Linked DNA regions of Homo sapiens: region 1 is linked to region 2. The links come from fine-mapping of genetic effects on gene expression. A gene starts in region 2. The other region holds a variant in brackets. All regions are shown on one strand. Distances are between the middles of the regions.

The links. PIP is the estimated chance that this variant, and not a neighbour inherited with it, causes the effect.
Region 1: its variant is fine-mapped to the expression of GRK3 in breast (GTEx, PIP 0.98).

What each region holds. Positions count from the first base shown.
Region 1 is chr22:26,070,105-26,085,497 of GRCh38, reverse strand. No RefSeq gene overlaps it. Among named protein-coding and RNA genes, the nearest start is that of LINC02559, 74 kb to the left of the region's middle. The variant A/T (reference allele first, on the strand shown) is at 6,834.
Region 2 is chr22:25,558,834-25,574,226 of GRCh38, reverse strand. It overlaps GRK3 (G protein-coupled receptor kinase 3), which reads right to left and starts at 9,552. Exons shown (of 21, transcript NM_005160.4): 1 at 9,074-9,552. The coding sequence starts at 9,186. GRK3-AS1 (GRK3 antisense RNA 1) reads left to right here and starts at 8,811. Exons shown (of 4, transcript NR_183564.1): 1 at 8,811-9,147; 2 at 9,868-10,137; 3 at 10,746-10,924; 4 at 12,729-13,339. RefSeq lists enhancers at 6,878-7,057, 8,340-8,855 and silencers at 8,967-9,216, 9,527-9,626.

The DNA.
Region 1 (15,393 bases), 510 kb before region 2:
GTAGAGACAAAGAAAGAAAGGTGGGGAAAGGCAGGTAGATGCCCATTATCGTATTCACTTCTTTGCTTTCAATCTTAATATTCTTGTTCTTCTTCCTCCTTTACACTCACCTGGCAAAACTTCAACCCAGATTGAATCCAAGTGCTGATCTTTTCCACACCTGTGTCTCTACAGATACAAATGGCTGGAAGACAAAAAACACCCAGGTCAGCTGGTATCACTTTAAATGTATGCTCAGAACCTATTGCAAGTCCATGATCCCAGCTGCAAGACAACTTTCACGACCCTCCCTTCAACTCTCCAACTCTTCCTCCTCAGTCTTGGTTAATGTCCCTGCTTCCTTTCCCCTAAGAAAACAGGAAGGGGTTATTTGCCCCATGCCACACTTCTGCCACACTCACCCTGCCAACCTTCCCCAGATGAGCTCATGTACCTGTCCTCTCCCTGTCCCATGAATGCCTGTCGATGCTGACAGCTCATCCATGGGAGTTCTGGGTTCCTCTTCCCACACCCCATCAAGCCACATCACTCCAGTGATCAATCCCTTTCTCTCCCAAATCATAAGTGTTTCTCTTTTTACTGGATTATTCCCATCAGCAAATAAACTTACCATAACGTTCCCTTCTTAAAGCAAAACAAGTAAAAACAACAAAGAACTTTGACCCACATCCCACTCCAGCCACCATCTGTTGCCTTCAGAAAAAAAGTTACTCAAGAGTCATCCAGAGTTCTCCAATTCTTCCTTTTCCATTCTCCCTTGCATTCACTCCAGTCAGGGTGCCCTGAGACCTGTGCTGTCGGGATCACTGATAATCTTCATTTTTCCACATCCAGTGGGCCATTCTTAGGCTCATCTTACCTAAATCAACAGTATTTGTTACAACTGATTGTTTGCTTCATCTAGAAATGTTTTCTTCACTTGGCTTCAAGTGAAGCCACTTAGCATAAGCATGCTACTGGCTTCCCTCCTCCCTATGTGGCTGTTCCCTTCCCATCTCCTTCCCTGGCTCCCCCTCATTGGCTGAATTCTACACACTCTACACAGAATCTCAGGACTCTGGACTCTTCCCTGTGTACACTCATTCATGCAGACTGGGTCTCATCCAGTCTCCTAGCACTAACTACAAGCTCTACCCCAAAAACTCCCATATAAAATATGTATATCTCCAGCCTCAGTCTCTCCCTCGAGCTCCAACCTATATAGTCCTGCTCATCATCTTCCACCTGGAGATGTCTACTAGGCATCCAGCCTAAGGTGTCCAGCCCCCTGCACACCTGCACCTCCCATGTCTCATGAATGACAACCCTATCCTTCCAGCTACTTGGAGTTCATTTCGCTGCTTCCTTTTTCTCACTCTGTACATATACTCCATCAGGAAATCCAGACTTCTCAAATCAGCCAGACTCTGATGACTTGCTAAAACTTTCATTGTTATTATTCTGGTCTAAACTGCCATCATGTCAAATCTGGATTATTGTAGTGGCTTCCCCTTGGTTCTTCCTGCCTCCATCTCTGTCCCTAGCATTCGTTCTCCACATAGCAGCCAACAGGATCATTCAAAAATGAAACATTTTATGTCACTTCTCCACTCGAATTTCTCCAATAATTTCCCATCTGACTTGGAGACAGAGCTGTAATTCTTACCATGAGCTGCAAAGACCCTGCATGATCTATCCTCCACTATCTCTATCTTCCTTGCTCATTTCAACCAGCACCTGGTCTCTTTACAATTCTTTGAACATACCAGCCACAGTCCTGCCCCGGGGCCTTTGTGCTTGCACTTCCCACCTCCTAGAATGTGCTTCCCCTGAATATTTGCACAGCTTACTCTCACTTTCTGTTATCTCTTCTTAAGTCTTACCTTATCAGAGAGACTTTTTTCTGAACACATCATGTAAAATATACCCATGCCCCTACATACATATATATCCTGCCAGGAGAGGCAAGAGCTCGTGGAAATTATTCCAGCTCCCATGCCCAGTTGGTGGGAAAATATAAAGTATGTTTTTTGAAGTCTCTGCAAGGGTCTCCAGCAGAATTGAATTTCAGCTGCCCACAGGAAAACCCACTCAATATCATGTCCTTGACTGGCTTTCTTCTCTTTCTTGTCTCAATTTCCCACTCCCTAATGATGCTTTCTTGGATAACCTCCTAAATAAATGACCTCCCCTTGAACCTTCCACTCAGGATTTTCTTTTAGAGAAAACTACACAAAGTCCCACTTTTGTGTCAATTATATGACATGATGTATATTTATCAATCTATTATCTTTGTCATCTGTCTCTTCCCACTGGAATACAAGCCCCAAAAAGATGCACCATGCTCTCCTCTTGAGATGGCTGGTGGGTACTTAGCACATATTTGCTCAATAGAAGAGTTAATTTATTCATCTGACAATTAGTTCTTCAATGCCTATCTTGTGCTGGGCTCTCTTCCAGTTACTAGGGATACAGTGGCAACCACAATGAGTAAGGTTTCTGTTCATAAGGAGCTCACATTCTGAGTGGATAGATGAATAAACAGATGGATGGATGGATGGATGGGAAGATGGGAGTGGAGGGCAAATGGGACCCACTACAGCCTTACAGTACCCAGCATTTGGATACTAAGGAATCATATCTACTCAAGGACATTTTGCAAATAGCCCCTCATGACCTGTGCTTACTTCTTCTACTCTATTACCTCTACCTCTTAGCCATGTCCCTGCCAAATGATTTTTTTCCCCAGAAATTCTTGTGTATTTTCTCACTTCTGGACCAGTGTCCTGTGCCTGCTCATGGCCTTTGCAGACCCCACTTCACATCCTCTAATGTCTTCTCTGCCCACTCTGGTGCTGATGCCATTCTTCTTCTGGTCTGGGACTTTCAAGGCAATTCTGCCCAAACTCTACATGCAAGGTAATGATCTTTCCTCATGCACTGTTTTGAGTGTAGTGTGATTTGAGTGTGTGTTCATAGGAAATTCTTTCTTGCTAATGGAAAAGGAAGGCAAGGTGAGGAGTGTTCCAGCCTTTCAGATGGGACTCACATGGAGTCCTAGCACCTCCTAGCTGTGTCTCCTTAGCCAGTGACTTCATCTCATGGGGACTCAGTTTACTCATTTGTTAAATATGGATGGGAATAGTTCCCCTCTGCCAGAATGCTGGATGATTCAAATGAAATTATGAGTGTAAAGAAGAATTTTTATTCAAATCCTGGCTCTGTCTCCCACTCATTGTGTGACCTTGGGTAAATATCTTCACCTGTCTGTCCTTTTGTTTGTATAGCAATAAAATGGAGATAACTGTGAGTGCTTTATAAGGCTGTTTGAGAATTACAGAAAACCATGCATAAAAAATGCTTGGCCCAGAGTCTGGTACATAGAAAATGCTTAATAAATTCTTACCATTATTATTTTTCTAAAGCCTTTGAGCTCAAAAGCCATAGTGAAATAACAGCCACCAAGCATGCTGGGCAAATCTCTAGAACATCAAGCTGCTCCAGTAAAATGCGATGTCATCGGTGATAAAATCTAGCCTAGAGATGCTGCAGTTCTGGAGTTCAGAATCTTCTATTCTTCCCTGGGCATTTTGCTTCTCAACAAGCACTTGAGAAGCAAGCCAAGCTTCTTCAATTCTGGGGAAGGCAACTGCTGGAAAGCCTAGGGTAAAATATGAAAGCCTTCCTCTTCACGCTTATCCTGCTAGCAATCTTAAAGAGGGCAACACACCACCCTTTTATCTTCATCTGCAGATGAATGTAAAACACGCTTCTTGGGGGATGATGAATGGGGGAGCCTGCTGAACAGATCAGTTCCCCTCCAGAAGGTTGAGGCTCTTTTTGTGAAGGAAAATACATCATCCAAAGGCCTGCAGAAAAGGGGAGATTCTAGCCAGGAGGGGGGGAAAGAATGATGTTGGTCCTTTTCAATAATTAATTTCATTTAATCTTTAGGAAATTTTACTGGGAAATATATCATACCTAAAAAAGTAGTGAAAATCTATATATACAGTTAAGGAATAATAGTAACATAAATATCTGTGCACCCACTATTTGGCTCATGAAACAGAACATTATTAATAATTTAGAAGCTTCTAAAACATATCACTACCCTGAATTTTGTTTTAATCATTCCCTTGTTTTTCATACAGTTTAACCATCTTGTATATGTTCCTAAATCATGATAGTAATCACAAAGGTAATAACAACAACTAGTCAAAAATAATAATAAGGGCTAACATTTACATAGTGTTTGTTCTGTGCCAGGTACTCTTTTAAGTATTTTACATATATTAATTCATTTAATCCTCACAACAACTCTTTGAGGTAGGAACCACTGCTATCTTCGACATTCTTTAAATGAAGAAACTGAGGTACAGAGAGGTTAGGTAACTCATTAGGGTCACTGAGCTAGAAAAAGGGAATACTCAGTCATGAACCCACTTTTGGCCCCAGAGTCCATAATGGCTATGCTCTCCTGTCTCTCAATATAGCATTAGTTTTGATTGTTCTTGAACTTTATATACATGGACTTATATATTTTGGATTTTTATGGGATTTATCTCTTTGAATGAATATTAAGTTTCTGAGATTCATCCCCATTAATGTGTGTAGCTGTAGTTTATTCACTTTTTACAGCTGCATAATGTTCCATTATACCCATTCTCCTCTGATGTGTGTGCCTGTAGTTTGTTCATTTTTTACAGCTGCATAATATTCCATTATATCTATTCTTCTATTGTTAGAAACATGAGTTGATTCCAATTTCCCATTTGCTCTCTGCAGAGATCCCACCAAGTAGAATATGATCGTCTTGGTTTTACGGACCAGGAAACTGAGGCTGAGAGATGGGAAGAGGCTTTCCCAGGTCACAGCTGGCATATGCAGAGAAAGACGTTCAACTTGAAACTACCAGCTTTCAAGCTCTAGAGCTTTCTGTTGTTCTGTGCTGAGATATCAACTGCTAAGCACAGCCTTTTAAATCTGAAACTATGGTGCTATTTTTAATCTTTTTCATAAAGAAAAGTCTCTAACACCTCCCTTCTTTTCCTTCTGGGAAGAGCCACATTCATCCTTTCATATAAACAAATGTACATATGTTTGTAAACATACATACATGTAAATGACAATCCCTGAGTTAAGTTTTCTGGATAGAGAGATAAATAAGGTATGCCTGGCCTTAGAATTTCTCTGAGTGGGAAATTCTGAGGGAAAAAGGACAGACATTCCTAACAATAGTTAAAGTGTTAGGATCTAGAAGCACAAGGGAGGAAGCAAAAAATCAAAGAAGACTTCCTGAGGCTGAATAGGAGTTATACTGTTAGGCAAGGGAGGGCATTCCTGATGAGGAAACAACATCAAGACCGTGCAGTAGGAAAGTCATGGCATGTTCAGAGAGTGGGGAGAAATTTGGGGTGCCTTGAATGTCAACTGAGGAGAGAAGGAAGCATCTAAAGAGAAAAGTCCTATGTTGAGTAGTCCTGGATGCCAGGCTAAGGTGTTTGAACATGGTCTTATGAGGATGATTGTCATTGAGGGTTTCAAGTTGTGAAGGTGACAGGATAGGGCAACTGTTTCAGAACAATCTCATGTCTGACATGGAGATTAGTCTTGGGAAATAGTCATGGAGCTCCCCTTTGGAGAGAATGAAAGTCTAGGATCCCATTCTGGGCAGTGCTGAGGCTCCAGGCGGGAATTCAAAATATGTGTTTATGATCTTTTATTTTTTTCACGATAATAACTATACACAATGTGTTTGGGATGTACTCCATTAACTGGGTGAGTCTGGGAAAATGATTTAATCTCTCTGTGTTGTGGGTACCTTATCTATAAAATGAGCATAATAATATCTCCAAATAATATAAAGAAATTTTATGACAACTAAGTGAATTCATACTTGTGAAGCCATTAGAACTTTGGCAGGCACACAACCCTCAATATTATTGAAAGTTTTATGCTGTCATCATCGTCGTCATAATCATCATCATCATCATCATCATCATCACATTTTTAGGGCACAAAACCAGGCTTTGAAATATATTTAATGATATTGCATCTTTTGACTATCCCTGTGGAGTGGGTAGCACATTTTCCTTCATAGACAGAACAGAGTTTTGAGAGGTTGAGAGAGTTGCCCAATGTCACCGGAATCAATAACAGGCTTGCAATCTCAATTCATATCTTCTTCTGCGTTTTCAGCCATGAACACTTACACCCACTCTCAGGCCAGGACATTGTTCTATGCCCTACCTGGAATGTGAAAGGCCTTGGAAATTATCAACAATTTGAACTCTGCAATATCTCGGTCAGTACCTTGGACAGTGATGGGCATTCTTAAAGAGTTAAGCACTTAAGTCACAGAGCAACATTCCCCTAATGTTCATTCTAGCATAACCACTATCAGCCTTACCACAAATTAAATAGCATCTTCAGGGGGAGTCTGAATGCCTCCTTACTCACTTTATAATTCCGCAAGACATCCCCCCAGTCTACACTCTTCTTGTTTATCTTCAAGGCTAGTTTTTTGTTCTGATCACAGTGGGAAATATGTGCCCAGTTACTGAGCAGTTAATAAAGGCCAAAACTCATTTTCTCAAGAAATAGCGGTAAGATTAAAGCTGCAGAGTATAAGGTATCCTTCATTATTCAGGAAACAGGCATATGCTTGAGGGAGGATGGGGCTGGGAGGAAGATATGAAGGAAAGGGTGAAAATTACAAAACATGTTGGCAAACTCATGGGTTAGACCATTAAGATTACAAATCCAAAAATTCCATCTGATGGATTTCAGGGCCAAAACATGAAGACCAAGAAGAGTGAATCCCTTCAAATAAGCCCAAACAAGCCCTTGTTCTA[A/T]ATGTCTTAGACTAAGATCAAAGGACCCCAACAAGGTCTTCCAATGACTTAACTCAACCTCTACTGAATCCAGAATTCTCTTCTTTGATGTCCTTCTCAGTGAAACTAAGGAGGATTCACAGATGAACAATATAAATGGAGCAGTCTCTCTCTGTAGCATCTCTTATTAATGTTCAGCATTTGGACTGGTTCTGGCCACCAGGAGGCTGTTTGGATGCTCCTGGTGGTCTGGTGGAGAAAGAACCCAAGCTAGAAGCTGGAGACTTGGGCATGATACCAATTTTGTCTGTTACCTGAGCCAGTTCTCTATCTTTTCTGGGCTTCAGCATCTGTATCTGTCAAATGCAGATAATACCTACCTTGGTTTCTTTGGTGGAGTGTGTGTGTGTGTGTGTGTGTGTGTGTACGTATGTGTGTGTCCACATGTAATCATAGATTGAATGATATAAGCACTTTGAAAAAGTAAACCCAAAAGTGTATAGTTCCCTTGTTTAGCTCTGATCACAGATAACTTAGCAATTATCTGTTTATATGTATTTCTTTCCCAAATGACAATGTGCTTCTTGAAGGTGGGGTCTGTATCTCATTCATCCTTGACTTTTTAGCACCCAAAACAGCTTCTTGTACAGACTGGTCCTCGCTAAATATTTGTGGAACAAGGGACAGGATAACCAAATAGTGTAGAGCACAAGCTCTGCATTAGAAAAGCAGGGTTATGTCTTGACTCTGTCACATCTCAGCAATGTGACCTTGGGCAAATCTTGTAACCTCTGCCATCCCCAGTTTCCCCATCTGTAAAAGGGTGCTGGCCACCTCAATGGGCCATTGGGAGTAGTAAATGAGGACATGAATATAAAACATTTAGGAGAGCTCTTGGTATCTAGTCAGTGGTCAAGAAACCTTAGCTAACATATTTATCTTCTGTATTCTAATTTTTGTGTTGTGAGCCATGAAGGGTGTCATGAAGGAGCTTAACCACTAAGTGAGCGCTCTGTCATTTTTTGTGTGATTATCCCAAATCTATTGCAATCTAACTGCTTTGTCTACCAGTGGATATACAGAAATAGCCATGACAGTCTCCAGGTGCTGTGGAAAGGTGGGCAGATGACAGTTGGCTCTGTTGTTGTTCTGCTTAGCAACCCCATACCAATTGCTTTCCATCTCCCAGCCTTGGTTTCCCTAGGTAAAGAAGTAGCAAGAACTGATTTCTGAACTCATCCCACTGTTTCTAAGCACCTTGAATAATCTCTGTGCTAAAAAGAGGTCATCCTTTCAGAAACCCCTGCAGCTGCTCCCAGGGAGGATGTTGGCGACCCAGTTCAAACCCAGGATGCCTGAAAGACACAGTTCAAAGCTGAAACAGAGACATGCACTCCGCATTTCATTTGAGGACATCTAAGTGGGAGGGCTCTCCTGAATCACACCCTCATCACCCCAGGGAGTCATTTTACCTGAGTAATACATTTTCCTGAACTGGGTACTCGCTCTTTAAAGGAAGTCATCAGTGGCTGTAATTCAACAAGAAGACCATTGGTGCTATACTGAAAAGTAACTAGAATCCATTTTCTTTCGAGAAATAGGATGCCTGCTTAGGGAATTGAGAAAAAAAAAAAAGCGAAGTAGGCTCTTCTTTACCTCCTTCACAAATTAGACAGAGCATGCAAATCTCGAGGCATCAGCAGTACTGGAAACTGGGGTCTCTTTGTATAGCCTCAGCAGGAACTGAGGATATACCAAACGACACTTGAGAGTTTTGGCTCAATTGCGGCTTTGCCGTGAACCAGCTATGTGACTTTGCGCACATCCTTTCCTTTTCCTGAGGCTGGGACTCAGTTGTCTACTCTGACACTGGCTTTTTCTGTCCTAACACAAAAGTAAGTAAGAAGAATTGTCCAGGATGGGTCAAATGCCCCTACTGTGAGTCCAGTACTGATCTGGGTGCTGGAGATGCAATGTAGTTCCTACGTGCCTAGAGCTGATGTCTAAGGAAGCAGAGATATAGAAAAGTAAGTTAGAATAATATTGGCAGCAGGGTTGGAGGAAGCACAGATGCCTTGGGGGAGATGTGGGGAGGGCTGTGTGTGTGTGTGTGTGTGCATGTGTGAATGCATGTATGTGTAAGTGCAGGTGTGTGTGCATATGTGTTCATGTATGTGCTTGCATGTGCATGTATGTATATTTTAAGAGGAGTCAGAGAAGCTTTCCCAGAGGCTGGGTATCTAAACTAAACCATAAAGAAATAGAATTAAAATTATCATTTTTGTGAGCACTTACTATATGATGGGTAAAGAATTATCTCATTTAACTTTTTAAAACATTTTTTGAGGCAGGTAGTATTATCATTATCCTCATCTTAGAGATGAGGAAACTGAGGCCCACACAGGTTAAGTCATTTGCCCAAGGCTGCACAGCTAAGAAGTGGCAAAGTTGGAGTTTGAACTTAGACTCTTAGGCTTCAGAGCCCATGGACTAATCAGCCACCACACTGCCTCTTAGTATGGAGGCTGGTCAGACAAATAGAATGGCAAGAGGGAGCGCTAGCTGGAGAGAACAGTTCATGCAAAGGTCTGCACATGATCTACAGGGTGGTGAGTCTGAGGAGCTGGATGCTGTGTATATTGCCTAGAAGGTAGTGTGTAGGGTGGGTGGAGAGGGTCAAAGAAGCAGTTGGTGGCACCAGATGAGGCCAAAGAGAAAGGTAAAATTTATGCTCATGCCTGCAATCCTAGCACTTTGGGAAGCCAAAGTGGATGGACTGTTTGAGCCCAGGAGTTTGAGACCAGTCTGGGCAATATGGTGCAATGCTGTCTCTACAAAGAATACAAAAAATTAGCTGGGCATGGTGGCGCATGCCTGTAGTTCCAGTTACTCAGGAAGCTGAGGTGGGAGGATCACTTGAGCCTGGGGAGGTCAAGGCTGCAGGGAGCCGAGATTGTGCCACTGCGCTCCAGCCTGGGCAACAGAGGGAGACCCCATCTCAAAGAAAAATCAAAGGTAAAATTTATACTAGGAAATAATAAACCAGAACTTTGTCCTGGGGCAACAAGGAGTTGCTAGAGTTTTCAGCATTGGAGAGCTATCATCAGACTTCTTGTTTCAAACAATCATTCTGGCTACCCTGTTGAGAGTGGAATTTCCCTGCCCAGTGCTGATGGCATGGGACTTTTTCAGGAGACGAAGTGAATTGTCACCACAGAGGAGAGCAGTACTCAACTACCATCATCCCACCCACACTCAGTGTCATCTTCTCTCCATATATGACCCAACAAGCTTCTGTGTCATCATGGTGACAACATCTCACAATGGGTCACACCTGTCACACAGGGGCCCATGAGGGTTTAGCAGGAAAAGAGCCATTGGCTACTTCCTGTTCATTCCTAGTCAAGGTTTGGGAGAGGTATCCATTGAGAAAGAATTGATAATAGTTTGGAGAAAGAATCAAAGGCAATGAGTGGCTACTCAATGAAAGCAACTTCGACATTTGGTTCTGTATGCAAATTGTGCTCCCTGCCAGATTGATTGGTGATAACTACTTTGGAGCTTTAGTTTTCTCATCTGTAAAATGAACTGGTTAAAGAAGGGCAGTATTTTCCAAAGCATATTCCAACTTACTGATTTACAAGATGCTCGGGGGGAAATAATTTTATGACAAAATAAATTTAGGAAAGGCTGCTTACTGTGGCCCCCTTTAGGTGCTTCGTATGATGCTTTGGCACATTAAAGGCTCTGACAAGTTCTGTAGAGAAGACATTTGCTTAATCTACAGACTTTACACTTGACAATGGACTCTGATGTGACATCTCTGAGCATCACATCAAACCAGTGACCTACAGTATCCACACTGGGGAAATGTGAAATAGAGGATGCATAACTGCTTTCCTTGCTCTAGGAGTTTCTAGTTTGAGATAAAGAGCTCCTGGATGGCAGGAATAATACCTCACACAGTGGTGCTGATAAAATATTGCATGAAAGGAAGAAGTTCATGATTGCTTCATGCCTGTGGATAATCTAAAAAGAATCCCTAATCTTTCTATTTTACCAGGTGCTGTATGATGTACCTGGTAATTCTTATAACCATTTATCGATCACATACTATATGCCAGATTTTGAGGGTGCAGATATAAACAAACTAATTCTCTGTTCACCAGCATTTCCCAGCCTCTAGGGGACCTGGCACTAAACAGCAAGTGCCATAACAGAGACCTATGCAGAGAATGGTGGATATTGGGCTTCTTTTGTTTGCCTTTTTACCCTTTTCCACCCTGCTCTGGCCTCCAGACCCTGATCCATATGGACCATGTCAGCAGACTTCCTTGTCTTTTTGCTGCCTGTTGTTTCCAGCCAATGAAAGGCAGCAGCAAGATACTGGAGAGTCAGAGAGAAGTGAGGTTGAGATTTTATTCTCTTGGCTCCCTCCTTGACAGGTCACTACAGTGTGGGTGTGTCCCTTTTTCAAGGCTCCTGCCAGGGAATCTTGTCTATACTTCTAGCCTCTGTGAATGTTATAATTGCTCTTCCTCCCTTTGCAGCTTCAGGACTAGAGGTAGTAACAGCTCTCCAGTATTGCTGGTCCCAGGTGCTGTACTATGCTTTGTCAGTTTCCTTTAACCCTGCCCATTGTAATGCACACTCCATTGTAAACAGTCTCTTAATTAAAGTCTCCTTATGGTGTCTAGTTTGAGTGTGGCATTTGTTCTCAATTGGGACCCTGACTAATGCATGATATGAACATAGAGAGTGGTGTGGTTGATACACAGAGGTGAGGCAGGAAGCTAAACCTCAGGAGAGGAGGGTGATGATTAGTAAAAGTTTCACAGAGGAATAAACATGAGAGCTGCATTTTGAAGGCCAACTAGGAGGTTTCCCATAAGATTTTATATTGATGAGAGATGCACCTGAACAAAGATATAGGGGTAATCAAAGGTAAAATCCACGCCAGGAAATAATAAGTCAGAACTTTGTCCTGGGGCAAGGAGGAGTTGCTAAAGAGGTAAGCTTTACAGCAGTAAACTTTAAGAATAGCTTAAAGTTAAATGATGCTGGCTCTTCCAGAAAATCATTCTCCCATGTCTGAAGCTGGCCATCTTGGAGGATGTGAAGGTAACCTCTGGTCACAAATTCTTCAGGATTCAATGACAAAGATGCTGCAAATAAGCCCTGGTAGCTCTGAGATTGCAAACAAATAGCCTATAGGCAAGATTGGAAATGCAAAGAGTTATATTGGACCCACAAAGATCTTTGAGAAGAAAACTCAAGGCAACACTTACAAATTGAGATAGCGTACTTCAAAACTCTGACTTCTTAAACATGAAGAGAGAAAGAGATAGTCTGGCAACACCATGCTTGCATTCCCACTTGGCAGCAATCAGTTGGAGCTGGGATGCTCTCTCCAAGGCTAGCATAGGTCCTGTAGTTTTCCACAGTCCCCACCACTCCCTATTGACCTGGTCTTTGTACTGTTCTCCGCAAAGCTCTATAAAAATTATCCACTGAACTCTATAATGATTTAGATTGATAACCCTGGATATAGAAGATACAGCCCCATCTATAAATTCTCTACTGTTCCTTTTCCCTCTGCCTGTGCCTTAGTTAAACAAAGAACTTTTCAACACTCTGACATGTCTTTCTCTGGATCAGTGTCTGGGAAAGGCTGGAGCATGTTTTTGCCTCACCACCTTTGTGCAACTTACACACAGCCTTTTTCTTAAGTGGGCAGAAGGTGGGTTTGATCTGCCTCTCATGATCAGAGCTGGCAGGATTTTAAAAGACTTCACCAGAAAAACGCTTGTTCTTTGATATACGATGCCAGCCCCAGAAGGACTCTGGGAGCGTCAAAATCATCCCCCTCATTTTACAGATGGGGAAACAGATGGAGGTAATGGTAGGACTCACACAGGCCCACACAGTGAATAAGGGGTGGAGTGAAAGAGAAGGGAACCAACATTTGGTGGCTCACTACTAGGTGCTTCATAGGGGAGGGTTGTGTTCTTTTCATAATCAATTAGATAGTTCTTAATTCCTTTTTACAAATGAAGTGATGAATGCTTGGAGAAAATGAGTAAGATATCAGAGGTCACATGGTCAAAATAGTGTAATGTTTTTGAACTTAGGGGCCCCAGAGTCAAATAATGGGCATAGGTGCCAATATCAGCTCTGCTACTGACAAAAAAGAAGTCACTGACTCATTCCACTGACTGTTCCTAAAAGAACACTCCAGATTTCTAAGCTCACAGAGCGAAGTTGTCTTGGACACTAAAGGGTTATCATGACAGGGACAGTCTCTCCTCTCTATAATGGAAGCTACCATAGTGTGACATTGAAATGGGACAGCCTAGGTTCATAACCCATCCTTCCATTTACCAGCTTTGCATCCTTGACTAAACCACTTCACCTCTCTGAGCCTTAGTGTTCTAATCCCTAAAATGAGAACAGGATGTCTCTCAATGGAGGGGGGGTGGTTAAGAAGATCAATGCAATAATATTGTAAAGTGCCTTGGAAATCGTAGACTGTGCTTTAAAGATTTGGTCCTGCTTGGGTTGGCGGGGGGTGTGGTTCTCAAGACCATCCACTGATTTACTAGAAGCACTCACAGGACTTAGCATGCAGTTGTACTCATGGCTAAGGCAACACTATAAGGATTCACAATCAACCCAGTAAAGGAAAAGACACAGATAAGGGTCTGGAAGCCATGTGCAGGCTTCCTATGTTCTGTTCCTCCTATGGAAGATCACACAGAACACTGTTTCCAGTAGCAATAATGCAGGAATTCATTTGTAATATTTATAATGCCCAGTGTAGCCAGTTTGAGATTTAGAGTTTAGAGTGGTTTTTAGGGGCTGCTCATATCGATTTTTCTGTCTAGCAACAACCAAAATTCCAGACTCTCAGAAAGAAAGCAGGTGTTCACCATAAATTACATTGTTTCTATAAACAGTCAAGGCACAAAGAATCAACCTTATCAGTTAGGGAATGGAGGAGACATTTTAAAAGCCAAGTTCCCAGATGCCAGCTAAGGAGCAACTTGCAAACAGGCCTTTAAAAGATTACATCCTCAGCCTTGCTGTTTTAATTCTTTTCTGCAAAGACTCCCTTTCGGAACACTTTTGCTCATTCTACAAATCTTTTTGAAGCTTCTATTCAGTTTCTGGGACCACAAGGCTAGATGTAGAGAACAGAAAGTTCTGAACTCAAGAAATGGGCAATCTTTGGAAGAACAAAGAAAAAAACCAAAGCAGTGACAATATAAGACTGTGCAGGACAGGAAACCTGTTGGTTTTTTCTACCTGTGCCCTTTCCCTGTTTCTGGGATAACAGTATCCCCTCCTTCTCTTTGGAGAACTGCACCACCATCCACCCAAGAAATTCTCTGCTAAGACTGTCAATCGCAGATGACCATGGACACTTGCATATAAGCCAAGCCTGGCCAATGACATTCTATTGGCCACCAAGGGACAGAAAGTAGTTGAGACTGTGTCACCCATGGCAATGTCGTAGAGAGACCATTTGCCAACTCCTGCTTTTATGGTCCCTAAAGCTTGACTGGTCCATGCCCTTTCAGAAGCCTGGTGGTTTCTTCCAATAACTCCTTGTTCTGATTCAAATGAGCTAAAGTTGTTTTTTGACATTTAGACCCTAGCTGGAACCTGCAGGAGAAATGTCTTTGCTGGAGAAGAAGAGTATTGTGGGATATGTATCAGGGACAGCTATATCCTAACAAAATGTAAAATGGGAAGGGATGGCACTGAAATTGCAATCACTAAGATGGGCAGGGAGCATATTCTATGTGCAGAGAGTATCATACCCAAAGGCCCAGGAGTGTGAGGGTGCAGAATGAGTTTGAGCAACTGAGAAATTCAGCATCTGAGGTGCTGCCTGGAAGCAGTTGGGGTAGACAGTTTTGGAGATGAGATGGGGTAAGCCAAACCACTGAAACTTGCATGCCACTTGAGGGAGTTTGGATTTTATTTTGCAAGCAAGCATGGAAAGATGCATATTTTGGATAGATTATGCTGACTACAGGGTGGAAGCCTCATGAATGGACATCTGGAGAAAGCCATTATCAAGATCACTTTATCAGAGAACTTTTATGCTCTTATCTGCATTCCTCTTCATCCATTCCAGAATGAGGGAGGGCAAAATCTATCTCCATTTTTACAGATGGGAAAGTAAAGAACCACCTAGAGGGAGACTAGAGCTACAACATGATGAAACGGGGTCTCCACACAATGACTCTTGATCTGGAGGGTTTGTCATTGCCGTGAGTAAACCAGGGTCTCTCCCTGTGTACCCCGAGGCAAGCCAATGGGTCTAAAACTCAAATGATTCATAGGCCTAGCAGGTAACAATAAATGAGCATTTATTTTTATGCATCTCTTTATTTACTGGCCATGTGGGCCAGTAGGGGTGGAGATGGGAATGAACTGCTAGCAAAAAGGGGGAAGTGTGACTAGATATCAAGGGAAGGTGGAAGTCTGAATTTTATGTGAAATGTTCTTATTTTTAAGCGCTGTGCTGGTCAAACTAAAACATTCCCACCTGCAGGCCACAGGTCTTCAGCCC
Region 2 (15,393 bases):
CCACCACACCTGGCCTCATTTTTAATTTAAACTTTTATCAAAGGCAATAAAGATACAAAAAAAATTACAAGAAATACACCTGAAAATATAACCAGACATATTAGTATCCAAACAAGATAATAAAGATCAATGGACCGACTTAATGACACAATGCACAAATACTAACAGCATATTATTCAAGAAAGTTTTATTGCTGACATTGAAGAAACTTGCTGTCTTCCCCAGCCAATGGGATTTTATGGGTTTTTGTTGTTGGTGGTGGTGTTGTTGGTGTTGTTGTTTGGTTGGTTGGTTGGTTGGTTGGTTGGTTTTTTTGTTTCTTTGTTTGAGACAGAGTTTCGCTCTTGCCACACGGACTGGAGTGCAATAGCACGATCTCAGCTCACTGCAACCTCTGCCTCCTGGATTCAAACAATTCTCCTGCCTCAGCCTCCTGAGTAGCCGGGATTGTGGGTGCCTGCCACCATGCCCAGCTAATTTTTGTATTTTTAGTAGAGACGGGGTTTCACCATGTTTGTCAGGCTGATCTTGAACTCCTGACCTCAGGTGATTCACCTGCCTCAGCCTCCCAAAGTGCTGGGATTACAGTCATTTTATGTTTTTGACTATATGAAACATACCCCCTAATATCCTATGACCTTTTTCTGCATATTTAAAGCTCACTTTCTTCCTGAAATATTTTAGTCCATAATTGTCTAAGAATTATACAGTGCCTAGTACCTACTTAGCAGTCAGCAATGGCAGCTGTTGTCATAATACACATGTAACCCATACCTGGCTTCCAAACTCTGACTAATGAAAATATTCATCCCCTAAGCAAACTGGTATAATGAATTTTGAATCATTCAAGGAACCAAATCCTAAAATGGAACTTCAGAGGGACTCAATCACACACTTGAAATAGAATTTATTACTAGCTTTGCCATTACTAAATTAATTATGATAATTTTACAGATCTCTTTTTGGTCTTCATAAATTTTGATATTCTTACTCAGCTCAGTAATGTTCAGACTAATGAGCATAGATTACACACAGCAGTGTGCATTATGAGGAATAAGTAAAGGAGCTGGGGACAGCTTCCTATAAAAGGCATCTTGAGCTAGAGGAGCTGCCTTCAAATATTTGATGATCTGTCACATTTGAGGAACTAAACTTGTTTCTCACAACCACAAAAGGATAATAAGAGACCAGTGCACAGAAGGTAATACAAGAGAGCTTTCTGGTACAACAGTTTCCAAAGATGCTCATCAAAGATGCCTGTGGCTAGATATTAGAGAGGGAAGTCACTCATCAAAAAGCATAACTAGATTGGATGTCCCCCAACATCTTTTCAAACATGAGATACTACAATCCTATGTTATTCATATACAATCTGTTAATGTCTAAGAAAGACTGTAATGAATCACCTTATGCACAATACAATGAAGCCAGCTGCTTTCAGATCATGATTTTTGGTTCATTTTTCTGAAACAAAAACCTCTAAAGAATGAGTCAACTCTGCTAATTGCCTGGTTACACCTATTTAAGTAGCAGGCTTGCAACTCTTAGGCACTGATACCACCATCCCAGAGCCTACGGGATGGATAGATGGATAGATGAAAGACAGAAAGGAAAGAAGAAAGGGAGGAAAGCAAGCAAGCAAGAAAGTGTGAGTGCGATGAGATACCATCTCACGCCAGTTAGAAGGGCGATCATTAAAAAGGAAACAACAGGTGTTGGAGAGGATGTGGAGAAATAAGAACACTTTTACACTGTTGGTGGGACTGTAAACTAGTTCAACCATTGTGGAAGACTGTGGCGATTCCTCAAAGATCTAGAACTAGAAATACCATTTGACCCAGCCATCCCATTACTGGATATATATCCAAAGCATTATAAATCATGCTGCTATAAAGACACATGCACACGTATGTTTATTGCGGCACTATTTACAATAGCAAAGACTTGGAACCAACCCAAATGTCCACCAATGATAGAATGGATTAAGAAAATCTGGCACATATACACCATGGAATACTATGCAGCCATAAAAAAGGATGAGTTTATGTCCTTTGTAGGGACATAGATGAAGCTGGAAACCATCATTCTGAGCAAACTAACACAGGAACAGAAAACCAAACACCACATGTTCTCACTCATAGGTGGGAATTGAACAATGAGAACACTTGGACACAGGGTGGGGAACATCATACACCAGGGTCTATCATGGGGCGGGGGGAAGGGGTAGGGATAGCATTGGGAGAAATATCTAATGTAAATGACAAGTTAATGGGTGCAGCACACCAACATGGCACATGTATACATACATACAACAAACCTGCATGTTGTGCACATGTACCCTAGAACTTAAAGTATAATTTTAAAAAAAAAAGTGTGAGTAAGGTATCATGTGTAGAAGGTTCTAGACACACAGTACCACAATAAGCAGCTAGAGGAGGAAAACTGAGAAATCTGGGCAATCAACCTACTTATGAGTCTAAGGCTCAACAATTGCTCTTCTCTGTTCCAGCCAATCATCCAGCTTTTCAGAAGTCCTGCCTCCCAAACCCACTCCCTCCTCCCTCAGAGCACATGGCACCACAGCACTTGCAAGACTGCCTTAATATTCGCTATTATGTTGTACTTTTTTAAAGGTGTACTTGTATCTTATACTACACATAATCTCAACAACAATAACCCTATAGTATAAGTGTTTTTAATCATTTCTTTTAATATTCCTTCTCATCTTTTTGTTTGAGTTATCCGTGTCTGAAATTCAATATGGGTAATTTTTAATGTTTCCTATTATTTACAAATGTATTGCATAGACAGAAAATGCTCACAAGGCAGATTTTTATTGGGACATTATACAATCAGAAAGAAATAGATAATGTATTTTACTGATGGAGAAACTAAATACAGCAAATTTAAGTGACTTCCAGAGGTCCCATAGCAAGCTGCCAGTGGAATCAGATCCTTAATGTCTGGCTTCTGATTTAGAACCTTCTCTTCTATGACAGTTTGGTAGGTAGTAGGGATGGCACAGGAAAACGAGGGGCCCAGCAATGACAGTGGCTTTCTGGTGCACTAAGGATGGAGGTCTGGGCTGGCTATTTTCACATTAGCATCTTTTTCTGCTCCTGAAACTGCAGGAGAAGGAAATGGTGGCAAACAACAGTATAGGTCCAAGGCTGGATCAAGCTGACCTTTACCAACTACCTATCACAAAATATTTTACAAAATATGTCGCAAAAATATTTTCACTGCATTCGCCATGGGCTCTCTATATAGTGTCCTACATAGAAAGTATTCAAATATGTGTATGCTCCAGTGGAAGCAGAGGACCCAAAAGAAGGCTTCCAAAATTAGAAGAAACATTTACAGGATATGAAGAGCCACATTATTACTTATTCTGCATTTTAGGCTCATAGAGCAATCAAAAAGGGCCCAGGGGTTGTAACTTCTAATCAATGATAAAAATAGGAAGGGAAGATTAAAAAAGTAAGACACAGGAGAAGCAGAGGGGGGCCGGGATATCCAGTCCCATTTGCATGCAAATTACTTACCATACAAATGATTTTGCAATAATAGAGTAAAAGTTGCCAAATTAATCATTTCCATTTCCCCATTGCCAATGTCCAGAGAATAAGAAGAGACAATGATAGCCATGCAGACAGCCTACATTTTCACCTACAGTGGTCCGCAGATATGTGACTGTACTAACAAAGGAAGATTATGTGAATGAGAAAGTGATTTTTATTGCAAATAAAGCCAAAAATATTGTTTTTCCCTTTTACTCTTTTCCCAGAAATGAAAATTTCAAGGGAGGGGACAGCTCAGGCTGCCCCTTTTTTAAATAAAAAGGAGACAGGGCAGCTTAGGTGGCCCCTTTTCTAAATAAAAAGACAGTAGAAATCCTGTTTTGAGGCCTTGGGGGGTGAGATGGTGTATTACACAATTTCTCATTAACACCAGCAAGATTGCATGACTTGTGTTAAACAGAATAGGCATTTCACCTTCAAGCTCATGGGAAATAAGGAACAAGCTGCTTATTCACTTACTCATAATTACCGTTTTCGCAGGTCCCAGAGGAATTCTCTATCAGTCTCTGAGGACTCGTAGCTGATCGGGAGAGTACGAAAAAGGATTTTTTCCCCCAAATAAAAAAGTATCGCAGTTTCATCCATTCCTTGCAAAATAAGACGCGAGGGAGTTTGGTATTCGTTTTTGGTGGGGCAGCCCAGCAAGACCCTGCCTGGGCGGGGAAAGACCCCGAGCTGGGCGAAACCTGGGCGTCCCTCCTGCCTCTCCCACTGTCAGGTGTCACCTGGGCTGAGCTCCTTACCTTCCCTGAGTGTCTGCTCCTTCTGTTAAACGGAGCTAATGCAACTCACCTGGTAGAACTACTGTGGGGACAAATGAACTAATTATGCCAACTGCCTGACAGAGGATGAGCTCTCAATTAAAGGCAGTTATTACATTATTACATCATGGACGTTAAACTTCTCTTTCCCTTGCCAGGGCTCCAGGGACCCTAGGGAGGCCAGGCGTCCTGCTAGCTATTTAATACTACTTTGCATTTCACTGCTTTGCTGGCCAGCCACTGACTGAAAAAGACCTGTGCTTCCCTTCCTCAAGCCTTGACACCTTCGTCGGATAGTTTCCACCCTTGTCCAAACAGATGTTTGGCAAAGTCCGGTGTACTGGGGAAAACACTGTAAGAGGCTGTCTCTAAGAATCCATTGCGTGTAAAAGCTGGGACTGCCTGTACCTCAGAGAGATCTATGAGGCTCTCGATTCGAAGCATTTCATGATGCTCAGCTTTGGCAGATTCTAGGTCCAAAACTGATTTCACCGGAACATCCATTTCTAAGAATTGACATCTACACGCACTCCTTGCATCTTCAAGTCACTGGCACAAGTTAACTTGGACCAAGAATGAGATAATAACTGAAAGGTCAGAACAAATTACATTTTGAATTTGTACCTTAATGAAAAAGAAGCAAGAACACTACTGTTTCTTACACATAGAAACACTCCTATCAATAATAAGGAATACTTTCTTTCTAAAGGCTATTTGTGCTTTCAACGTGGACTTTTCAGTTCAAAATTAGGCTATGAGCACAGGACAGTGAAGACACAGAAAACTCTACAGCCTAAACGGAGAGGAGTATTTCAAGTTATCCACCAATCACTTACTGATTGGAGTTAAACAATTACCGAATAAACTCCATGTCCACTAAAGAAGAAAACTGGGACATTTTTAAAGATCAATTACATGTGGTGGCTACACAAACAGAAAGATGCAAACTACCATATCACCATGGAGACTATGTTTAGATAGTTCTTCAAAGGTAATCACTAACAAATTATTGTAAAACACCAAACATCATGTGTTCTATGCATTATGCTATATTCTATATTCATTCTTTATTATTCTATATTCTATGCATATAGAGTAATAAAAGTCATCCAAACGCTATTTGTTTGTGGTTAAATAAAATCTTCAAGCAAATACACTTCAAAGCAAACATCCTTCTTGGCTCAAATCTTTGTATTTCACACTAGTCTATAAGCTCCATGAAGGAAGGGGCTGTGGCTGGGTTTGTCATAGTACCCCGTGCCTGGCTCATAGAAATGGCTCTACAACTATGTACTGAATTAATGTCATAAACGGTATCATAAATGTCCTTTAAGGACTGTCAGTGCTCCTAGAAAATTATAAAGAATCTTTAAAATGTTGTTTCAGACCTTCCTATCATATTGTATGAATACTTTGAAAGGACAAGCTTTGCAATAGGTGATCCAACATTTGAAATGTCCAGTAAATAGAAATAAGACTCCAGGGGAAAGATGAAGTTCACATTACTCAACCGCCTTCAACTATATGTGATTTCAAGTCATCTGAATTTCATTCTGTTTTTTTTAAAAAAAAAAGAGTAACAGAGTAATACAGCCTACAGTAAAAGTCGTCTGAATCACTCCAGGGCTTAAGATGATGACCCTTTGTGGGCCTTTGCTTGTGAATTAGACCTTACTTAAATAAAAGTATTTCTTTTCCAACATGATGTAAAACAACTGGCCTGCACATCTAAATGCTCCTGTTTTAACTGGGCCTGCAAGGGAGGCTGTGGGTCACAGTTTACTACTCCCAGTAGGCCCCATTATCAGCTACATTAGCTCAACAACATTTCAGTAAACTAAAGCAGCTATACCATTTGGACAAACAGTCAGCTTTTCCAGGATTTGCACTCATTGGTTGGTTAACTGAATAAAGTGTCAACATAACAAAATATTTGCCTCTTGCCATCTCAGGGAAGCAAAATCTCCCCTGGGCAGAATGTTCCATTTTCTGAGACTCTCCTGTAATAGGCAGGAAGCTGCAAACCCAGTGTTTCATTTAAATTAGCTAGATATTTCGTTCTGATGCTCTTCTGTTTAAAACTGTGGGAAAGGCAAAGTAACTAAAATAAGGAAGCACAAAGAATAGTGACTGCAAATAATTTGCTGGAAATAAAAAAATCACTAGTGATAGACCAAAGGCAAATTAAAATGTATGCTTCTCATTCAGATACCAAAAATACAAATCTGAACATCTCTTTCAAGAATACCAAAAACTGGTGATCACATGGCTTCCTCTATAATGAAGCTGAAATAGAAACTTATCAGAAAACATTTGACCCGTATCCCTTTTACCAATAGTGTGAAGTCATACCAGCTATTTAAGTCATTAGGCTGGGGCATTTTAACATGCAATTAACTTTTTTACAGGATCTAGAAATTCCCCAACCCCCAACCTCCAAATCAAATAGGTAGGCCACTAACTGCCATCCAGTGGTAGAGAGAATTTTGCAAGATGTTATACCTGATAATCTCAATGTAACAGAATCCTAACACAGCACAAGGAGTGACTGTTACTATGTAAATAGCTACATTACAAAACTAAAGCCAAAGCCACTAAGATAAGTAGAAAACAAATTAGAATCTCAGGAGGAGGTTCCAATGGCCCAATTCGAGAGTCTATTTTAAAAAGAGCAACAGAGTAACAATTACTGAAGGGCTGTTTCCTAAAATTACTCTCTGGTTGGTATTTCTCAATTTTCAAATGTCATGAGAAATAATGCTGGCTGTCACTTACTCTGCCTTAAAAGAAAGCATTACCAAAGAATACCACTGAAAAACAAAGGCATTCATACAAGGAAGTGAACACCCTAAGTGCATAAGTACGTTCTTAAGAGGGACACTAAAAAAGCAGAAGTCACATTAAGTTCCAAACACCAAGAAAAAAAAAACTGAACAGAAGTTCCTAACTTTATTAATATTATATACTAGCCCCCCCCAAAAAAAAAACTGCCCATGAGTTGAGATTTATCAATTTTGTATATAGAAATACTACATATTTAGGACTCCCTGCCTTTGGGTGGTGGAGGGACACTAGGAAAGGCAAGACAAAAGAGGAATTAAGCCTTTTTCTACCACATTAGAAATGTACAGTTTTTTTGGTGAAATTTAGGTTTGATGTAGGCGTTCTTGTTCTCTAAGTAAGTTTCCCATTTGCCGGAAATTTTAAGCAGCATTGATTTTTTTCAATTAGCTTCAGATATGCTACACTCTGGAATAGGGGTGTTAAACTCACGACATTGCAGAAAGGTTTGCACTTTTCCCTCATTTTCACTACTTGGCATTGTCTATCAAAGAGTAGCACATCCTGCAAAACCAACAAGAGGCATGGGCTAAGGAGGAAAAGCAAGCTCAAAATACCTAGCAAGCATGTCTTCATTTGCACAATTTAGCTTTTCACAACAAATAACAAGGGGACTGGTATTTTCTGTATCATAGGGCTCATGGATGACTTGTAAAAAAAATCAGATGATGATCACTTAGCATTAGGTAACATTTAAGCAATCTTGGGCGCCTAACGCTTGAAGGACTGATGATTTCAAATGGACAATAACTTTGGTTTAGATTCCAATATTTTACAGAATTGCATGGTTTCAAATTCACCATAAACAAGATGCCTCTTTTGAGCATCAATTCCAAGAGCTATTTAGCATCAAGGAATCACATTAGCTGTACAACTCATGATGGTGTTAATTAGGAAAGGAGCTAGAGAAAAAAAAATCCATCACTGAAGCCTTGATACGTTATTTAAAACTCACTATTAACCAGACAAACTATTTTTTCTGGGGAAGTGCTAATGATATGAACTAGAAAAAATTTTACTAGTACCTTAATAATAAATCATTTGAGAGAAAATTGCAACTTGGTATGCACCTCACCGAGCCCCTCGCCAATTCAATCGGGCCCTCCTTTGATAATTTAACAACAAATTCCTGTCTGGAATCACCCATTCAAGTGTCTTTTTAAGTGACTCCTGTTTCAATTTTTTAATAAAGTGCCACCAGTAGATCTACAAGTTGAGGAAAGCAGCTCAGGTGACACACTTGGCACCAAAAAGAATACTGAGTGGGTCAAAATCCTGCCCGGGGACAAAATAGAAGAGAAGCCGAAGAAGGTGACTAGACTTAATAGACTTCAAGAAGAGCAAGTACTGAAAACAGCAGTTTAACTACCTCGGACAATAAGCAACAAGCCTGCAGTCCCCAGGTAAGCGGCCCAGAGGGAGGTGAGAGGATGGAGTTGGAAAGGGGGACCAATGAGCCCGGGAAGAAGGAGCGACCAGGATGGAGCGCAAAGCAGTGACAGGCAAGGAGCCAACGGGGACTACACCAATGCAACAGGAAGAACCACGGGGATGGGACAGGGCAGGACAGGACAGGGCTGGGGGGAGGGGGCGACAGGGATGGAGCTGGTCCAGCCAAGTCATAACCAGACCCTGGCTGGGGCGCTCGCTGCGCGCAGGGCGCCGCGCCGGGCACTTTGGAGCGCTCTCTCCCGGGGTGCCCCCCACCGGCCCTCCGATGCCCCATTTCAGAGACTGGAACGACGAGGCCGGCCCCGCATCGCCCGCTCCGCTGTGTCACCCGCCCCGGGGCAGCGGAGGCTCAGCGCCCGACCCTCCAGGAAGCAGGGGGTAGCTGGCGGCCGCAGGGGGCGGCGGCTTGGGGCCGGCGCCGGCCGGGGCAGCTGGTACCTGGGCTCCGGCAGGACGATCCTCTTGCTGGCGCGGGCGGCCGGGGTCGCCTTGCTCTTCTCCATGGCCATCAGGTAACTGACATCGGCCAGCACAGCCTCCAGGTCCGCCATGTTGGCGAGCTTTGGCGGCGGCGGCGGCGGTTACTCCGGACCTGGACGGGACGCGCGCCCGCCGCCGCCGCCCGCCGCGCCCCGACCTGGGGGGGCCGCCCCGGGGCAGCCCCCCCCTCCGCGCGCCCCCGCCCCGCGCGCGCGCCGCGCGCCCCACTAGCGCTCTGCGCGCGCCGCAGGCTGTAGCCGGCCGGGGTCGCAGCACGCCTCCCCGCTCCGCCCCCTCGCGCGCCGCCCGGCGCCCCGCGCACGCGCGCCGCCCCCTGCTCCTTCAGCGAGGGTCTGCGGGGAGCGCGCGTCCAACGGTCAGCGCCCCTCAGTGCACAGTCCCAGCGGCCTCGCTGGGCCGGCGCCTCCCGACCAAGTCTCTACGGTCGCCCTCCCCTCGGGGTGGCCACGAGGGACTCCTCCTCCTCTTCCTCCTCCCCTCCCTCCCCCTCGGTCTCCGCCTCCTCCTTCTCCTCCTCCTTCACTGCCCCGACCTCCCGCCCCAGGTTCCACGCGCTCTGATGCCCGCCCCGCTCACCCAGAGAAGCCCTGGGCCAGACGTCCACAACCCAAGGGGTTATGGGGAGGCCTCTGCTCCCTGGACACAGTAGTTCTCAAACTGGACAGTGTCAATCAGCATCCTCCGGGAGGTCTGGGGTGGCCCCGGAAATACATGTGTCCCACCTATCCCAGCAGGTAATGATGAAACTCCTGCTCTGGTCCGGGCTACCGGTGAACAGCGCCCAGCGGGCCGGGCCCCCAACCTCGCTCCTGAGCCTGAACATCCCCCCAACCCCACCGTGAGAATTCAGCGAAGAGTAAAAGCTGGAAAAAGTTGCGTGTCTTAGGCTAAGCAGAACAAAGTGGGGTGACGGCTCCCCGGCTAGGAACAGAGATGCCCTTAGGGAGCCCTCTGATGGAAGAGCTCTCCGCTTAAGAAGGTCACCACTCCCTTACACTCAGGTGAGAGGTTTTAGTTTGGGTGTTGAAATGGTGTTGAGAAATAGAAGGAGAGAGAGTATTCCTGTCGTTAGGGTTTTACGGTCAATACAAGAGACAATTAGGGAGCATCTGCTGCGAGCACACTCGCACCACGAGGGTGATTTAGGGAAGTGGAAAAGCGAGATACAGCCCAAACACCGAAGCTGGGGGGAATTTCCAGCTTCCTGATCTTCGGTCTCGGTGTCTTTCATCATCACTCCACCCCGATGCCTGGGGTTTTCAGTTGCTTATTTTTCTACAGTGTGCACACAAGTCCGCATTCAGGATCCATGTGACACTCAGGCTGGAGTGGTGGTAAGGGACACGCAGGCAGTCTTAGGAAGACCTAAGCTGGAAATTAATGTTTTAAAATCCCTTTCATTCACCTGAATTGGTCACGTATTTCCATGAGCCTAGACGTTGCTAGAATTTGAGTGAACGTTCTGTCCATAACTTACAGGGTTAACGGGACCCACCAGATACAGTTAAGGTCAAATTTCAGATATTTCATGTAATGTCATTGCAGAAGCAGCCTGATTCTGTCATCAAATAGCCTGTTTCCCTCTTTTGTTTTCTCTCCCACGCCACAGCCCCCCTCAATCTGATTCCCTGCTATGCCTGCCATCACCACTGGCCAGTTTTACCACATGCTTCTCAAGACCCAAGGCACAATAGGCATAAAGTTGTCCTGAAAAGGACAAGAGGAGTGTCAGAAGTAGGAATGGCAGTTGAAGGAGCTTCGTCTGCCAGCAGAAAGCTGAAATGACAGGCAAGCACAAAATATATTAAGGAGACAAAGCTATGCATGAGCGAAATATCAAACTTTCATCTTCTACCCACTTTTTTTTTTTTTTTTTGCTTAAAAACAGGAAGACAGAATGTCTTGTCAAGGGTCACCCCAGGAGGAGGAGTAAATTCCCCAAAAAGCGGAACATATTTTTATGATTTAATTAATACAATTTCTCTCAATGTGTCTGTTTATCATTTGAGCATCCACATGATCAGACCTGACATCTGCCTACATTTTCTTGGTCGTCTTTGACTTCAGTTAAGAACCTTTTGCTCTTTGTTTTCCCCCAGCAGCACAGTATATTAAGTTTGGAACAAGACACACCTGAAATCAAATCCCTGCTCTGTGCTGGGTGATCTTAGAGGCAGTCTTTTACCTCTTTCTACTTTATTGTTCTCATAGGAAAAGTGGAAATGAGGCCTTTTACCCCAGGGTTGTTGAGAAGACAGAGGAGAAAAAGCACATAAAAATGCACCTTGTCGGGCGTGGGGCTCACACCTGTAATCCCAGCACTTTGGGAGGCTGAGGCAGGTGTATCGCTTGAGGCCAGGAGTTCAAGACCAGCCTGGCCAACAGGAAAAATACATTAAAAATAATGTCTCTATTAAAAATACAAAAATTAGCCAGGTATGGTGGTGCACGCCTGTAATCCCAGCTACTCAGGAGGCTGAGGCAGAAGAATCGCTTGAACCCAGGAAGCGAAAGCTGCAGTGAGTCGAGATCGCAGCACTGGGCAGGCACAGTGGCTCACACCTGTAATCCCAGTACTTTGGGAGGCTGAGGTGGGTGGATCACAAGGTCAGGAGATGGAGACCATCCTGGCTAACACGATGAAACTGTATCTCTACTAAAAATACAAAAACAAAATAAGCTGGGCGTGGTGGCGGGCGCCTGTAGTCCCAGCTACCTGGGAGGCTGAGGCAGGAGAATGGCAGGAACCCGGGAGGCAGAGCTTGCCGTCAGCCAAGATTGCACTGCTGCACTCCAGCCTGGGCAAGAGAGCAAGACCCTGTCTCAAAAAAAAAAAAAAAAAAAAAAAAAGCATTTTGCCTGGCACCCAGTAGATCCTCAATAAAGGTCATGGCACTTCCTCTATTTATTTTGCTTCATTTTACCCTGGCATGCTAGAGAAGATACTGAAACTAGTTGTTCACAGTCATTACACTTGAAGCAGGAAGACCCCTTACCAAAAATAACATCTCCCTAGGGCATTTCTAGGAACCAAAATGGCAAAAACATTTGCATCTATAAACATGAGCAATTACTCTTTTGGCAGAAAGACCAAGGAGTCCAAAATTTGGTCCTCTAACTGAGGCCCCTACACCATTTGAGTCAGCTGACTCAATTACCCAGGGGTATTTTTTTCTGGTGTTCATAGTGTATGAATTTCTGTTCCCTGGCTGTCTCTTTGGTTGTCTCACTTTCTCCACCCCCTCTTCTTTCCCTTTTTCTTGACTCTCTTGATACTGAACAGCTTTTTGTGTTCACTGCAAACAAAAGGGGTTAATGACAGTGATGATGAAGTTGTCATAACTGACCTGCTGGATCCTGTTACTAAACACCATCCCCAGCCTGTAATCATCACAAAGAACAGAAAAAACAAATAGCAACCCATTTGTACTTAGCTAATAATGCTCCCTTGCAAATAATTATGTCTCCCACCCCCAGAGGATTTAAATGACTTGGGGCTCACGCTGCTTGTGATAATAGACAAAACTCCAGCGTTCCCACAAGATTAATAATGTTCCCTTTTCTTCTTTTCTATGCCTTTCCATCGTTACAGGAGATGTTGCTGAGATGGGTGCATTAAAGTTTAGGCTTTCCAGAGTTTATATTGCTAACAACTTGAAAGGAAAAAAGCTAACTAGAGAACTGACTGGTCTTATTTGTTTTAGATTCTGGGCTTTACTAAGACTTCCTACTCTCAGAATCTCTGGACTATAAACGCTGGGTGGGGTGGGAGCTGGGAATGTTATTCTGGAAAATTAATCACAAATGAAAAGAAAATCAACTCTAAGACTCCAGTTAGAAGATTTTTGAAAATGGCAGAACATGACTGGCCTTCATTCAAGTCAGAATATTTAAAGCAATCCTTGCTAAGAAGAACTTGATTTTGTATAAGCAGTCCCTTAAATACAGTTGCTTCTCAAGAAAACCACACACAATTGATGTTTGAATGGCTTTATTTACAAACATCTCACTCCGTAAGCCTCTGCAGGTATTTCTAGCCTCCCAGGGGCCACTGTCCCGTTTCACCTGTAATTTGGATCACAATTCTGTTTGTTGTCACACACATCATATGAACTGCTTTTCATGCTGCTTTTATCCACAAAGCTTTACAAGCTTTAATGGCAGCTCTATGTATGACAACTTTATAAAGATCTGCCAAAAGGTATGATGCCAAGCTTTGCTTTTATTAAACTATTAGCTATTAGCACTGAAACGATGTTCAGTAGAGAAGTACTCTCCTTTCAATATGTGAGTGGAAACACATTTCTCTATGGGGACTGCTGGTCAGGGACTCACTCTAAAGAAAAGCCACAGTGTTGTGGTTCAGAGCATGGGCTCAAAAGACAAATGGATAAGAAGCCCAAGACCAGTCCTTCTGAGCTGTGTGACCTTAGACAAGTTGTCTAATCTCTCTGTGTCTCAGCTCTGCCTCAGTGTTGTTAATGGGATTGCCGTGAGAGCAATGCTGTAACATGTAAAAAGCACTTAGAACTGTGTCTGGCACACAGAAAGCACTCGATAAATATTGACCTGGTTAGCAGCAGCAGCAGCCATCGCTGGAGCATCTCTACATCATACAGGGCCCGATGGAAAGAGACCAGCACTGAGAATGAACAGAACAGTGCTGGCTCTGACCCGCTGGCTCTGGCATTGCTGAATAACTCTAAGCAAGTCTCTTAAGCTTTTTAAATATGATTTTTCACCAGTAACTAATGAAGGGATTGAAGGAGCAGGTCCCCTGACGTCTTTTCAAATTCTAAAATTCTCCAGCTTTATTTAATCCTGCAGTGAATCCTTTTGCAAGGTAAAGAGTACTCGCTCCCCTCAATAACATCTTATGAGTTTAGGTTTCGGTGCATAGGGCAATACCCAGGGCATAAATCATTTCCACTGTCACCATAGCCCGCAGGTGAGGTGAGCAATCCATTAGCTTGCTTCTGGAAACAAGCCTGTCTGTATTTGTTCCCCCAGCATCTGCACTCAGCACACTGACTTTGCTCAGTATATGTATTGGATGGATAAGTGAGTAAATGAATGAATGACATAAAGATCATAGATTGCCTCAGCCTTCTATTGGAAAATAACCTAAAGGGAGGGGGAAAATTACTACTTAAAACCACAAGTGCCACTCAAGGGATGCCTCCTATGAAAGGAGGAGTGCTAACTGCCAGGTCCCCACTGGTTCTTCGTGCTGCTTATGGCCTGGAAGGCCTCTCCTGCAGCCAAGAGCCCTGATGTGCTTGGGCTGTGCAACGGTGAGTCTGGGGTGAGTCTGGGAACTTTAGGCGCAGGAATGGAGAGCGCTGACTCCCTTTGCCTAAGAAAGGGGACTTAGAGGGGAACTTGAAAGAGGGAGTAAGAGAGAGGGCAACAAGAGGGGCCGAGGCTAGGCAGTCCATGCAGCGGGTGCCAAGCCTGAGGTGGGGTGGTCTGGAAATCATTCCAGAACAGGAAATATGTTCTTCTGTCTTCTGTGCCATTTTAAGTTCTGTACAGCAATGCCTGCTTTTCCAGTGATCCTTACAACTTCCCAGCTTGTATTTGTGGGTACTTTGATGGAAAGTTGCAGGGGAAGCAGGGAACTAGGGCTGGGATCAATACCAGGACCAAGATAAAGGAACAGCTGTAAGAGCAAGAGAACAAGAACTAAGCAAAAGCAGGGAATTTGGGGCCTGCCATGATGATGGGAACGTGGGCTCTGAAGATCCACAGACAGCCAAGGCAGGCCTCGGCCTCTCCATGGGACTGGAAAGCTCATCTTGTCTCCCTCTCAAGGAGTAAGAAGATGACTTCTGGATACGTGAGTCACAAAAGGCCAGAACTTTTCTGCATCTCCCACGGCACCCCCTTACAAGGGCAGGTCATTTTGGGGCATGCCACCTGGGCCAGTGGCAGCAGGTACTGAGCAAATCCACCCCCCACCTCTCAGAGCTTGTCTCTTCCTGTCCTGGCCAGGTCTGTTTCTTCTCTCTTGATCAACAGAAATAACTCCCAAACTGCTTGGTATAGAGCAGTTCATGAATAGAGATTCAAACAGGTCACACTCAATTATGAAATCAGGGTGCCTGGGCCAGGCCTGGCATAACCCTGATCTCAGAGGACCACCCCTACCCTCCCCAGGGAGCCACCAGAGAAGCTGTCACATGCTCCTAAGACGTGCTTGCCACCAGCACCCCCAGACACTTATGTGCTGAAATTGCCAACATGCAGATTCGGAT